Homo sapiens: one gene and its partner. The protein of the gene in region 1 purifies or fractionates together with the protein of each later gene. This does not show direct contact. Each region holds a gene or a part of one and is shown in the gene's direction. Other genes may lie near its edges.

Evidence for each region. Proteins that work in one complex are often made in the same cells at the same time.
Region 2: the proteins of NEURL4 (region 1) and ZNRD2 purify together in Homo sapiens (co-immunoprecipitation; 4 studies listed by BioGRID and IntAct, with this or other methods). This does not show direct contact.

The regions. Positions count from the first base shown.
Region 1 is NC_000017.11:7,326,274-7,333,947, reverse strand, and holds the start of NEURL4 (neuralized-like protein 4), read left to right. Parts: upstream 1-4,612; 5' UTR 4,613-4,635; coding exon 4,636-4,917; intron 4,918-6,063; coding exon 6,064-6,508; intron 6,509-6,717; coding exon 6,718-6,783; intron 6,784-6,938; coding exon 6,939-7,237; intron 7,238-7,399; coding exon 7,400-7,511; intron 7,512-7,604; coding exon 7,605-7,674. UniProt on the Homo sapiens protein: Promotes CCP110 ubiquitination and proteasome-dependent degradation. By counteracting accumulation of CP110, maintains normal centriolar homeostasis and preventing formation of ectopic microtubular organizing centers.
Region 2 is NC_000011.10:65,566,178-65,572,388, forward strand, and holds ZNRD2 (protein ZNRD2), read left to right. Parts: upstream 1-4,299; 5' UTR 4,300-4,314; coding exon 4,315-4,333; exon of another isoform or gene 4,334-4,426; coding exon 4,427-4,578; intron 4,579-4,708; coding exon 4,709-4,793; intron 4,794-5,213; coding exon 5,214-5,557; 3' UTR 5,558-5,711; downstream 5,712-6,211. UniProt on the Homo sapiens protein: Might play a role in mitosis. Antigenic molecule. Could be a centromere-associated protein. May induce anti-centromere antibodies.

The DNA.
Region 1 (7,674 bases):
TGAGGAACGGGCTCTGGAATACAACCCCCTCTAGTCCCTGGAGCCCCGCCATCGCTAACCCTCGGCTTCAAGGATGTGCCTCCAGGTGACCAGGCCTGGCTCATCTTTGGCTCCTCTGGCTAGTTCTCCTGCCAAGCCTCTCTGCACAGGCCTGGGCTCTGGGTCCAGCATCACGCCTTGACTGCCACCGCTGATACTGATAATACCACCATTGTCATCCTCATCCTCTTCATTCTCCAAGGGCTGGTTTTTCTGAGCCTTGAGAAACTTCCCTTTGTCATAGTGTGCCTTGCGGCGCTTGTCAAAGTCGGTGGAGTCTGTGACCATGGTGAGAGCTTGGCTTTCCCACCGCACTCTTGCCAAAGGCTCGCTCCACCTCCCCCTTTCCATTCAATCCACAACCCTCATCTCATGTTGTGGGCGAAAGATTACCTAGGTGCCAAGGTAAGAGACTGAAGGCACAAACTGTTTCAGTATAATAAAGAAATAGTTAGAATAAGAATAGTCATAATACAAATTAGATATAGAGATGATCATGGACAATTATCAATCATTATTATAGACATTATTAATCATTAGCTTTTAATATTACTGTTTGTTGCATTACTAATATAACCTAGGAATAACCGGCGGGTATAGGGTCAGGTGCTGAAGGGACATTGTGAGAAGTGACCTAGAAGGCAAGAGGTGAACCTTCTGTCACGCTCGCATAAGGGCCGCTTGAGGGCTCCTTGGTCAAGCGGTAACGCTAGTGCCTGGGAAGACACCCGTTACTTAGCAGATCGCGAAAGGGAGTCTCCTTTCCTTGGAGGAGTCAGGGAACACTCTGCTCCACCAGCTTCTTGTGGAAGGCTGGATATTATCCAGGCCTCCCCGCAGTCATCCGGAGGCCTAAACCCCTCCCTGTGGTGCTGTGCTTCAATGCTCACGCTCCTTGTCCACTTTCATGTTCCTCCCGTACTCCTGGTTCCTCTTTGAAATTCGTAGTAGAGAGCAGTAGAAGAAATAGTGAAAGTCTTAATGTCTTTGATCTTTCTTATCAGTGCATAGAAGAAAACGCTGACGTATGCTGCCTTCTCTCTCTACTTCGGCTACCTAAAAGGGAAGGGCCCCCTGTCCTGTGATCACGTGACTTGCTGCACCTTGTCAATCACTTAGAAGATTCACCCTCCTTACCCTGCCCCCTTGTCTTGTATGCAATAAATATCAGCGCAACCAGTGGTTCAGGGCCACTACCGGTCTCCGCGTCTTGGTAGTCATCCCCCAGGCCCAGCTGCTTTCTCTTTATCTCTTTGTCTTGTGTCTTAATTTATTACAATCTCTCGTCTCTGCACACGGTGGGGAACACCCGCTAAGCCCCATAGGGCTGGACCCTACATCATGTATCTTGGAAAAGTTGTCTGCAGGCCCTGAGCTCCTGTCAGCACAGTCCTGGCGGAACCTGGGGCAGATACTGTCCATCATGGCAATCCTGAAGGGGCAGGAGACTAGTTGGGGGCATCAAGAGAAGAAAATAGCAATGGGGACAGGTGGTAAACGAGGCCAAATTGGCGGACCCCTGCCCCCATCCAGGCCTGATGGAAATTGTAGCACCTCCCACTGCAGGTGTCAGAAAGCAGACCCGCTGCAGACCTGAATTCAGGGCTGAGGGAAGGAAGAGGCCCCATAACCCGGCTGATCTCTGGCAGGACTCTTACCTCTCTGCCAGCACTCCAGGATTCACTGAGCAGGAGGAGCCGGCAGAGAGGTCCTCAAAACTGTCCTGCAGCCTGCAGAGGAGGGGGAAGCAGTGCCGGGAGGTGGGTGTCAGGCAGTATCCAGTCCCTGAGGCGCTCTGCCTCCTCCACCTGTCCCCTCCTTTAAATAGAGAAGAATCTCTGGACTGAAGGGTTGGGGCTGAGGGCTCAGCACCTGTGGTAGGGAGTGTTGGGCTCATCCACCATCATAAATCCATAGTCCTTGTCAGCAGGGCGGTAGGTGGCCAGGATATTCATCTCGTCCCAGTGCTGAGACTTCCTTCTGGGGCTGGGGGAGGAGACCTTCTAATGACCCCCCCATAGGCCTCCCTCATTTTCCCAGTCATTCAAAACAGGTTTTTTTTGTTTTTGTTTTTGTTTTTTGCTTTTGTTTTTGTTTTGAGATGGAATCTTGGCTCTGTTGACCAAGCTGGAGTGCAGTGGCACGATCACAGCTCACGGCAACCTCTGCCTCCCGGGTTCAAGTGATTCTCCTGCCTCAGCCTCCTGAGTAGCTGGGATTACAGGCGTGCGCCACCACACCTGGCTAATTTTTGTATTTTTAGTAGAGATGGGGTTTCACCATGTTGGTCAGGCTGGTCTTGAACTCCTGACCTCGTGATCTGCCTGCCTCGCACTCCCAAAGTGCTGGGATTACAGGCATGAGCTACCCTGCGTGGCATTCAAAACAGTTTTTGTTGTTGTTTGTTTGTTTTTTGAGATGGAGTCTTGCTCTGTTTTCCAGACTGGAGTGCAATGGTGTGATCTCAGCTCATTGCAACCTCTGCCTCCCCGGTTCAAGCCATTCTCCTGCCTTAGCCTCCCAAGTAGCTGGGATTACAGGTGCCTGCCACCACACCCGGCTTATTTTTGTATTTTTAGTAGGGACAGGGTTTCACCATGTTGGCCGGGCTGGTCTCGAACTCCTGACCTCAGGTGATCTGCCCACCTCGGCCTCCCAAAGTGCTAGGATTACAGGCATGAGTCACCACTCCGACTCAAAACAGGTTTCTTATACCTTGTTGAGGCTGGGGATGGGGTCAGACTTAATGATAATCACAGTCCTGTGCAGCCACGGTTTATGGGGCACCTGCTCTTCTCCCGAAAGCCTGGAACCTCGGACTTCCCACTCAATTGCCCTCACCTACTCTAACTCTTCATTCTTAAGGCTCTGCCCCTTTCCTTCTGGCTCCCACCCTCAGGTGTCCTGAACCCTCCCGACTCTGGGCTGGCTGCCCGCAGAGCTGGGCTCCTTACTTCTCCACATTGGGGGATTTCTGCATCAAGTTGGAGCTGTTCTTTCGTAGGATGCTCCGGGGCCGGTCCTGTTGGGAGTTTTGGGGGTTCAAGCAAGTTGGCCCAGAGTGCGGACTGCACCCGGGGCTGTTTACCTCTTGCCCTGCAGGTCCCCCAGGCCCGGGGCTGGAAGCCCTGGATACACTGGTTCGAGGCCCGGGGATGTTGAATCCACCAGGGTTCCTGCCAGACCCAAGGCTGTGGTTCGCAGCCTCCCTTGGGTGCTGACTGGGCCCGGAACCAAGGACCACTATCCCCCCGGAGGGACAGCTTGAACCAGTACTATGAGTTACGGAGCCCCCTGAGTGCACGTGGGGCCCAGAACCGTGAAACAAGACTACTCTGGAGGGCTGCCCAGCGCCTGCCTCGACTCCTGTGACCGCTGCGGGCACTCCTCTGGCTGCCCCTCCAGGGGAATCCCGGTTGAGGCCGCCAGCAGCCCCTAGGGACTCCACCTTCTCCATGGCCCCACTGGGGGGCTGCTCTCAGCGATCCTGACCCGCCTCCCGGCTCCACGTAGCCCCGCCCCTGGCCCCGCCCCCACCGCTGCCGGCCGGGGATGCTCGGGCTCAGTCCCGGGTCCACTTCTCCCCTGCTCCAGAGCTGCGGCGGGCGGAATCAAGACTATATAGAGACTCGGGCTGGGGGTCCCTCCGCTCGCCCCTTTCCTTTGTGTCCCACCCAAAGATTTTCTTTGTCTGGGCAATTTGTTCCCGCCCTTCTCCATCACCACCCTCATCCAAACCAGCCAATCCCAGTCAGGGGGCCAGGCCAGGAGCTTCGACTGTGACCTCACGGTCCTCCAGCCTGAGCTTGAGCTTCGGGGAGTTGGGCAGGGGGCTTGTTAATAGCTCTAAGGGAGATCTTTTGGGGTCATCAACGCTGTCGCTTGAAACGGCCTGTCGGGACTTCTTTAGACTCTTTGTGGTCTTAACATGGAATAGTTTGGTTGAGTTGGAGTTGAAGCTGGGCTTGACTTGAACTATCAGCGAGCTTCCCCCACCCCCGCCAGTCGGCTAGCTCAGCCAATCAGAAGAGGTGTGAGGCAAAGTGGAAGGACTGCCGCACTGTTGCAAGACACTTCGTCCTCAGTCGGGTGGCGGGAAGAGACTTTCACTACCGCTTCTCTGGGTCCTCCAGACTCGGCTCACGCTGCTTTGGAGCCTGCATCCCGAGGGGAGACACCCCCTCTTGCCGTAAAGCGAGTGCTTCAAGGTGTCACCGCCCCCTAGCGAGGGCGGGGTCGTCGGTGCCGCTGTCGCAAAGCAGAAAGTGTTTGGGCTCCAGCACCCCACCGTCGTAAAGATGCCTGCGGTGGGCGTGTCTTTCTCCCACTGTCGCAAAAGCTCCCTGCCCAGGTCTTCGTCCCCCTCGGAGCCGCTCCGTCACCTCGCTATGCCGTAAAGCGAGGCTCCCGACCCCGTGTCCTTCTGTTCTCATCGTGGTCGTCCCCAGCTCCTAGCGCGGGCTGCTTCATTGCCCGGCAGTGCCGTAAAGCATACCTGGCCTCAGCCCCCCGGTCGTATCCCTCGGACTGTCTGCCCGACGCGGTTGCCACGGTGCCGCCAAGCGCGGCTGTCGCGCTGCCCCGGTGTCAGCGGAGATGGCGGCAGGGTCGGGTGGGAGTGGGGGCTCTGGGGGAGGCCCTGGACCGGGGCCGGGCGGGGGTGGGGGCCCCAGCGGGAGCGGCTCAGGACCGGGGTCCAACGGGGGTCTGGGCAGCGGCGGGGAACTGCACCCGCGCACTGGGCGCTTGGTGAGCCTGTCGGCCTGTGGGCGTACGGCGCGGCGGCAGCAGCCGGGCCAGGAGTTTAACCACGGGCTGGTGTTGAGCCGAGAACCCTTGCGCGATGGACGCGTCTTCACCGTCCGCATCGACCGCAAGGTGCAGCGCTGGTACCGCGGAACAGAGATGTGGAGGGTGGTGGGAGGCGTCTAGAGGGAGACGGGGTAGGACAGCCAGGGTAGCCCACATTGCCGGGCACCGAGAGGGAACAGAAAGACCATAGAGCACCAGGGGGCGGTCAGGAAGACAGCATGAAGCAGAAACATTGAGTTTGAAGATGACATTAAGAGCTTGAGTTTTCTCAAGATCCAGAACCAGGGAAGGGACACGAGGGCTAACCCACTAGAATGGCTGGGAACAGACCTCCTGGTACAATTTCTTGGGCATGGAGGATGGAGAGATGTCAGAGATGTGATGGCAAGTGAAGAAAGATGCCAAGGAACGAACAAACGTAATCCCAGCACTTTGGGAGTCCGAGGCGGGCGGATCACTAGAGTCAGGGGTTTGAGACCAGCCTGGTGAACGTGGTGAAACCCCGTCTTTACTAAAAATACAAAAATTGGCCAGGCATGGTGGCGTGCGCCTGTAATCCCAGCTACTCTGGAGGCTGAGGCAGGAGAATGGCTTGAACCCGGGAGGCAGAGGTTGCAGTGAGCTGAGATCATGCCATTGCACTCCAGCCTGGGCAATAGAGTGAGTGAGACTCCGTCTCAAAAAAACAGAACAAACCATTGAAGGACAGAGGCTGTGCCAGAAAGATAGGTGAGGAGAAAGATCCAGGGTGAGGGAGGTGTGTGTGATTCAGTGAAGAGGCCAGGCTCACAGAAAAAGAACTTGGAAGGAGATTGAATCTGGGTAGAGCCTGATCTTTGGAGAGAATTAGGCCAGGGGAAAGGAATGAATGATACACAAGAGCAAGAGGTGTGGGTATAGGAAGTAGGAGAATTTGGATGGTTGGAGAGCCATAGAGACAAGGAAAGTTAGAGGAGGCAGGAGGTTGGAACCAAGGAATTTGTGCTTGGCTTGGAAAGGAGTGGTTTAGTAAACACTGAGTAGAGAGCAGAGTTGCTAAAGGAAAGCCCAAATAATTACCAAGACGGAGTCCAGAAAATCACTGTCTGCATCTCTGGATTAGTGTTCCAAGAGACAGAAAGCCAGCTAGCTGTCTGAGAGGTGGGAAGATATGGTGGCCTGTGGAATGGGGGGTGGCCCATTCTAAGCCTCTGTCCAATACCCCTATCCCAGGTCAACTCCTGGAGCGGCTCCATTGAGATTGGGGTGACAGCGCTGGACCCCAGTGTGCTGGACTTTCCAAGCAGTGCCACGGGCCTGAAGGGGGGCTCGTGGGTAGTGTCGGGCTGCTCTGTGCTGAGAGATGGACGCTCTGTGTTGGAGGAGTATGGTCAGGACCTGGACCAGCTTGGTGAAGGGGACCGCGTGGGCGTGGAGCGCACAGTTGCTGGGGAGCTTCGGCTCTGGGTGAATGGGCGGGATTGCGGTGTGGCTGCCACAGGCCTGCCCCCTCGTGTCTGGGCCGTCGTGGACCTTTATGGCAAGTGCACCCAGATCACCGTGCTACCCCCTGAGCCAGGCTTCAGCCCCCCTACTCCCATCCCCACACCTCCCCTCGAGCCCTTGGCCCCCACTGAAGACTCTGCCTTGGCTGAACAGGGGACCTCTGCAGATGAAGGTGAGAACACAGCTAGGGCAGTGGTGGTGGGGTGGGGACGGAATGGGGGAAATAGAGTGACAAGACAGGCTGGGTGTGGGCAGGGCCACCCTGATCCCCAAGTCTGTTGAATGGGAGAGCAGGAGCTAGAGGATGGGGGGTTCTCCTGGCTATGGGCCGTGAAGCAGGGACTGAACCCTTATTCCCCTCCCATCCCACCTGGTCCCCAGCCTTCATGGTGTCCCCAGCGCAGGCCCGGCCGGAGACGTTTCCTAACAGCCTTGAGTCGCATAATGGTGAGGGCTTTGGGGAGGCCCTGGGAAGGGGAGTGGGAAGTGAGGTGGACAAGGGAGGGCCCTCAGGAGAAGGGGTAGGGAGAGAGGCACCAGGTCTGGGGGTGTAGAGCCTCATCCCAACTTCCGAGCTTCCTTCTTCCATCCTGCTGCTATAGACTTTGCCAACATGGAGCTGTCTGAGGTGGTGAGCAACACCATCCTGTCTGCCTACAATGGAGGGCTCCTGAATGTGAACCTGAGCTCCCCACCGGCAGGGGAAGGCCTGGGATCTAGCGGTGCTGCCACCTCGCCCATTCTCACTTCCAACGATGCCCTGCTCTTTCATGAAAAGTGCGGGACCCTCATCAAACTCAGCAACAATAATAAGACGGCTGAGCGCCGGCGGCCCCTGGATGAATTCAACAATGGGGTTGTCATGACCAATCGCCCCCTTCGGGACAATGAGATGTTTGAGGTGTGCAAAGTCCTGTGGTCTGGTTGGCGCCTTATCCCTGGGAGCTAAAGATGGGGATTGACCCTTGGTGCTAGGAGGGTGGGCCCTGGGGAAGAACCAAGGGCTGAAGGTCCCTTTCTGCATTTACATTCCCTGCTTCTCCCTTCTGTCCCTCAATGCCAGATCCGTATCGACAAGCTTGTTGATAAGTGGTCAGGCTCCATTGAGATTGGGGTCACCACCCACAACCCCAACAGTTTGGAGTACCCAGCCACCATGACCAACCTCCAGTCAGGTACCAGCCCCGGGCAGGGGCGGGGGTGCAGGCCTGGTGTTGCTGAGGGGAAGGAAGCCCCGTACCCGAACCCAAGTGTCCACTATCACCCAGGCACCATCATGATGAGCGGCTGTGGAATCCTGACCAATGGCAAGGGCACCCGCCGGGAGTACTGCGAATT
Region 2 (6,211 bases), on another chromosome or scaffold:
ACAAATGATAAGTTACGTTTTTCAGAGGCCAGGCAACATGGCATAGGCCACTTGTTGCCATGTGAACCATCCCCACCAAATCAGCCAGCCCAGGGGGAGCTGTAATTGAGCTGTGCATGACTGAGCTGCTGTGGGGTGCTCTATCACCCAGAAAAGAGCCTAACTACAGCCATGTCATCAGTGCCACAAGGAGGGACCAATTTGGACTGGCTCACATGAAACTGTGATTCCCTTCCCTCCCCCTCCCCCTCCTCCTTTCCCTCCTTTCTCTTCCCTGACTCCATGCTCTGTTGCCCAGGCTGGAGTGCAGTGGCAGGATCTCCACTCACTGCAACCTCCGCCTCCCAGTTCAAGCAATTCCCGTCTCAGCCTCATGAGTAGCTGGAACTACAGGCTCGCACCACCATGCCCAGCTAGTTTTTGTATTTTTAGTAGAGATGGGGTTTCACTATGTTGGCCAGGCTGGTCTCGAACTCCTGACCTCAAGTGATCTGCCAGTCTTGACCTCCCAAAGTGCTGGGATTAAAGTTGTGAGCCACCATGCCTGGCTGAAGGTGTGATATATTGTCGGCAAGGGAAGGGTGTGAAAGAGCCCAAGCCCATTGCTCCACAGACACTGGCCTGTCCACTGTGACTGCTGCGAATAGGTTTTACCACCAACACCTGTGAGCACCTTCTATGTCAAGGACTGTGAAGCATCTGAGATCTTACCCACTTGCAAGCTACCAAGGTAGCCCGTCAGGTTCAAGAATGCTGGCAGAATACAGGAGAGTCCTGGGTCAGAGACAAAGGACTTGATCGCTGTGCAGCAAACAGCATGAGCACCAGCATATTTCCGTTAGTTCCTTTTGACCCTAAGTCCCATGGGGGTGATGCTGATGGGCTCAGGCAAGTGTGGGCACACAGAGCGAATTACATTGTGGGAGAGGACCCTAAGCTTAGGAAACTCAAAGCCAGTAAGCATGGCTGTCCTTTGCTCTGGAGGGAGACACTATCTCCATCTTCCATAGCTGTTCCCTAGATAAACATCTTTGAAGCTGGCGCGGTGGCTCAGGCCTGTAATCCTACCACTTTGGGAGGCTGAGGTGGGCAGATCACCTGAAGTCGGGAGCTTGAGACTAGTCTGGCCAACATGGTGAAACACCGTCTCTACTAGAAATAAAAATTTAAAAAATTGGCTGGGCGCGGTGGCTCATGCCTATAATCCCAGCACTTTGGGAGGCCGAGACGGGCAGATCACGAGGTCAGGAGATCGAGACCATCGTGGCTAACACAGTGAAATCCTGTCTCTACTAAAAATGCAAAAAAAATTAATCGGGCGTGGTGGCAGGTGCCTGTAGTCCCAGCTACTTGGGAGGCTGAGGCAGGAGAATGGCGTGAATCCAGGAGGCAGAGCTTGCAGTGAGCCGAGATCGCACCATTGCACTCCAGCCTGGGCAACAGAGCAAGATGCCGTCTCAAAAAAAAAAAAAAAATTAGCCAGCTGTGGTGGCGCATGCCTGTAATCCCACTCCAGTGGGTGAGGCACAAGAATTGCTTGAACCTGGAAGGTGGAGGTGGCAGTGAGCCGAGAATTGCGCCACTTCACTCCAGGTTGGGTGACAGAGACTCCATCTCAAAAAACAAACAAGCAACAAATAGGCATAAGTGGCCCCATTTTTATTTTGAGTCAGGGTCTCGCTCTGTCACCCAGGTTGCAATGCAGAAGCCTGATCATGGCCCACTGCAGCCTGGATCTCCTGGGCTGGGAGCAATCCTCCCACTCAGCCTCCTGAGTAGCTGGGACTACAAGTGCATGCTACTGCACCAGCTAATTTAAAAAATACATATATTTCTTAGAGATGGGTTCTTACTATGCTGTCCAGGCTGGTCTCAAGCAATCCTCCTGCATGTCCTCCCAGAGTGCTGAGATTATAGGTGTGAGCCACAGCACCTGGTCTACTGGCCCTGTTTTACAGATGAGAAATTGAAGTCCACAGCGATGAAGTAAACTACTCCAGGTGATACAGTAAATAGATCCAGGATCAAACCCAGGCCTGCCTCATTCCAGTTCTGCGTCTTGTCCACCCTACAGTGGAACTTAAGATGGTGAGAGGCCCTGAGAGGAGAAAAGGGACAAGAGTCCTCTTGAGCAGTGGGAGAAGAGGGATGCAGGAAGGATGGGAGATGTGTGTGCATCTCTCTATGTGTTGTCTGGATTTGGGGGGTCAAGGACCAGATTTATAGGACCTTGGAGACCATAACAAGGACTTTGGATTTTTGTCTAAGTGTGATGGGAGATGCCAAATGGCTTTTTTTTTTTTTAGATAGAGTCTCACTCTGTTGCCCAGGCTGGAGTGCAGTGGTGTGATCTCGGCTCACTGCAACTTCTGCCTCCCGGTTCAAGCAATTCTCCTGGTTCAGCCTCCCGAGTAGCTGGGATTACGGGCGCCCGCCACCACACCTGGCTAATTTTTGTATTTTTAGTAGAGAAGGGGTTTCACTATGTTGGCCAGGCTGGTCTTGAACTCCTGATCTCAAGACATCTGCCCGCCTCGGCCTCCCAATGTGCTGGGGTTACAGGCGTGAGCCACAGTATCGGGCAGCCAGATGGTTTTTAGTACAAGAACGACACTGTATTTTAAAATAATTATTCAGTTTCCTGCTTATGTGGGGATATGTAAGGTTGTCATGAGGAGTAAATTGGAGAGATTAAGTGAGAGGACTCATGTAAGGCTCTTTGTAGGTGCGAGGCAGAATAGACAGTTGAGTGGATATTGGCCATGATGGTGACATAGTCGGCGCACTGAGGAATTCAGGGTAGGGCTGGGAGCTGGAGACGGTAATAACCTGGGGGTCTGTGCATACAGGCTGGAGTCCAAGAGATGGTTCAGAGACAGTTCCTCTAGTCAGCCTCAGGCTAGGTGCTGTGGCTCTTCGCTGTAATCCCAGCACTTTGGGAGGCTGAGGTGTGAGGATCACTTGAGTCCAGGAGTTGGAGACCAGCCTGGGCAACATGACGAAACCCCATCTCTACAAAAAATACAAACCAAACCAAACAAACACACAAAAAACGGTGGCTCTATTCAGCCTGATAGAAACGACTTGTGGTACAGGCCCTAAGTCAGGTACGCTGCTGCCCAAGAGCCTGACTGGTAGATGGAGATGTGAAAGGGACACAGGGCTCTCCACGTAAGCAGGAGGCAGCAAGAATGACAGTTCCAGGGGTTCTACGTGGAAGGAAGAGGGGGCCAGGAGGAAGGGACTTCAGGTCAGATTGAGGGGGCATGTGCCATCCGGAAGAGGAGAATGTCGATGTAACTGTGAAAGTCCAAGTCCTAGCTGCTTTTCCACTGCCCTGGTGTACAACCTCAGGCCCTGCAGACTGCACATCTGAGGACCCCTGCCTGCCCTGTCTGGCTTCTCTGAATCTAATAAGGGAGAAGATGCGTTTGAAAAAGAACACGGAAGAGGGAGAGAGAAAAAAAGCACCAAGGTCCATGTTCAGAGAGCCCTGGTAATTTTAACTTGCAACTCACCCAAGAAGAGCCTAATGGTCGCAAGAGTATGTAGGAAGGCCCCAACCCGACCCGGCCCAGCACGCAGCACCCAAGGGCGGCTGGAAGCGCAATGCGCGTGCCCAGTACAGCGCTATTCAGTCTGCAGGCTTTTTGAGGATTTCAACTTCAAAGAACGGTCGGCTTCGGGGCGAACTTTGCTTCAGTTCCAGGCCTCGGGAGGCAGCGAGGAGACAGACTGGGACACCGAGCATGCAGAAGGGGAGTGGTCTTGAAATACGCGGAAAGGGAGAATGCACCCCTCCTGGCCAGCCTTGCCGGGCGAAGTGAGAAGTACTGAGGCCTGAGAAGGCTCCACGCGTGCGCAAAGGGCCGCTCGCTGTGATTACTGGGGTGGCGATGGTTGTGATGACGCCGCTGCCCCGCCTGCGCCGAAAGGGAAACCCCAGGGGAGGCGGAGGCCAGCGGGGATTTCTGAAGCCAAGTGGTCCCCTTCATCCACGACGGACAGGAAGGGCGACCCCCTGAGGCCACTTCCAGGTCTTGCGACCGGAGGAGAGTTACCAAGGAGACGCTCCTCCCGAGGCCTCGCGCGTCGGAAGCTTCTGTCCCCTGGATTCCGGTTGACGGACGCGTCCCCCGAGCAGGTTCTCGGTAGCAGCCGACACGCCCCACCCCGGGCACAGCGAGGTCTGAGGACCACGCTAAGGCGTCACGTCCGCCCTGATCCGCGGCAGCTATGGAACGGGCGGAGCCGCAGCGGAGGGCGCTCCGCTTTGACGTCACTTCCTGTGAGCCCGGCGGTGACAACGGCAACATGGCCCTGAACGGAGCTGGTGAGGACCTGGGCGGCAGGGGTTTGTGGCTGTGAGGTACGGGAGGCAGCCCACTCCGGCAAGACCCCCAGTCCCTATGCCTCTCTTCCCCAGAAGTCGACGACTTCTCCTGGGAGCCCCCGACTGAGGCGGAGACGAAGGTGCTGCAGGCGCGACGGGAGCGGCAAGATCGCATCTCCCGGCTCATGGGCGACTATCTGCTGCGCGGTTACCGCATGCTGGGCGAGACGTGTGCGGACTGCGGGGTGAGGCGAGACTCGGGCGAGTGACCGGGGATGGGTCCGCGGGCCAGGCCACTCAGCCCTTCCCCGGCCCTCCCCTCTGGACCCCATTGCCGGCGTCTCATTCCGGCCCCGTGTGCTTTTTGGTCCGTAGACGATCCTCCTCCAAGACAAACAGCGGAAAATCTACTGCGTGGCTTGTCAGGAACTCGACTCAGACGTGGATAAAGATAATCCCGGTAAGAGTAAAAAATAATCCGGGAGAGGGGCCGGATATGCTTAGGGGGGAAGCGTGGTTAAGTGGTGATAGAGGCCCGAGAACAGTAGGGCTGAGAGGTGACAGTGGAGTCTCTGGGTGGGGTAGAAGTAAAATTATTTCTCCTTTAGGCTCTAAAGAGGACCCTTAACTCAATAAGAGCACCAAGCACCTCCTGTGTGCCAGCCACTGCGCGAGAGTCTGAGCTCAACCAGGCCCAGTACTGATGGAGAATTGAAGCTAGGGCATAAATGTGATACAAAGTAGAAAGTGGATGAGTTGCCTTATAGAGGGACAGGGAAAACACCTCAAGCACAGAAAGAGCAGAGCAGAAAAGGAGATGGCTCAGGGCTGAGGTGGGCCAGGCATCCTGACCATTCCACCCACTTTCTCCTCTTTTTAGCTCTGAATGCCCAGGCTGCCCTCTCCCAAGCTCGGGAGCACCAGCTGGCCTCAGCCTCAGAGCTCCCCCTGGGCTCTCGACCTGCGCCCCAGCCCCCAGTACCTCGTCCGGAGCACTGTGAGGGAGCTGCAGCAGGACTCAAGGCAGCCCAGGGGCCACCTGCTCCTGCTGTGCCTCCAAATACAGATGTCATGGCCTGCACACAGACAGCCCTCTTGCAGAAGCTGACCTGGGCCTCTGCTGAACTGGGCTCTAGCACCTCCCTGGAGACTAGCATCCAGCTGTGTGGCCTTATCCGCGCATGTGCGGAGGCCCTGCGCAGCCTGCAGCAGCTACAGCACTAAGAGAAGCCCCTGAGAAAAACCCTCTAGAAAAACAGCTGTTCCTCTGTGTGGTTTGTTTTTTTCCTGGTTCCAAGTGTGCATGCCAGCCCCAGCTCCACTCACCTTTTTCCAGCTTTTGGCCTCTTCACCTCTCCACTCTGCTCTCCTTGACGCCCTGAGATGAGTTGAGCTTGTTTCTTCTCAGTTTCCCCAGTCAGGATGAGGGAGTAGGTAGAGGACTATGTGATGCCCCTTTTCTAAGGAAGAAGCCATAGCCTTTTCAAAGGTAGCAGCCAGAGGGGTGGACCCTAGCCTTGTCTCTGGCAGCACCTCTGCAGCCTCTTCCGCCATCTGGTGTCCATTCCCCACCTGGAAGTGAGGTTTTGTGTTCCGATCCCCTTGATAGATTCCCCTCCTTCCCCTGAGCATCCTGACCCTATCAGCCTATCCCATCTCATGCCCACCCCAGGTACTCAGACACCGACAGGAGTTTGTGGTGACCCCAGCGTCAGGTGGCACGTTAGGCACCAAGTGTGGACTTGCCAGTCTCCTGACTCCACTGTTAGATCATTTTCCTTGGGTGTGGGGGCGGGGCGGGGCGCGGCGGGGAGACGGGGTAGCAAAAAGAACCGTGAAGAAACCACGCCTGCCCCCTTCAGCCTTTTCCCCCCTCCG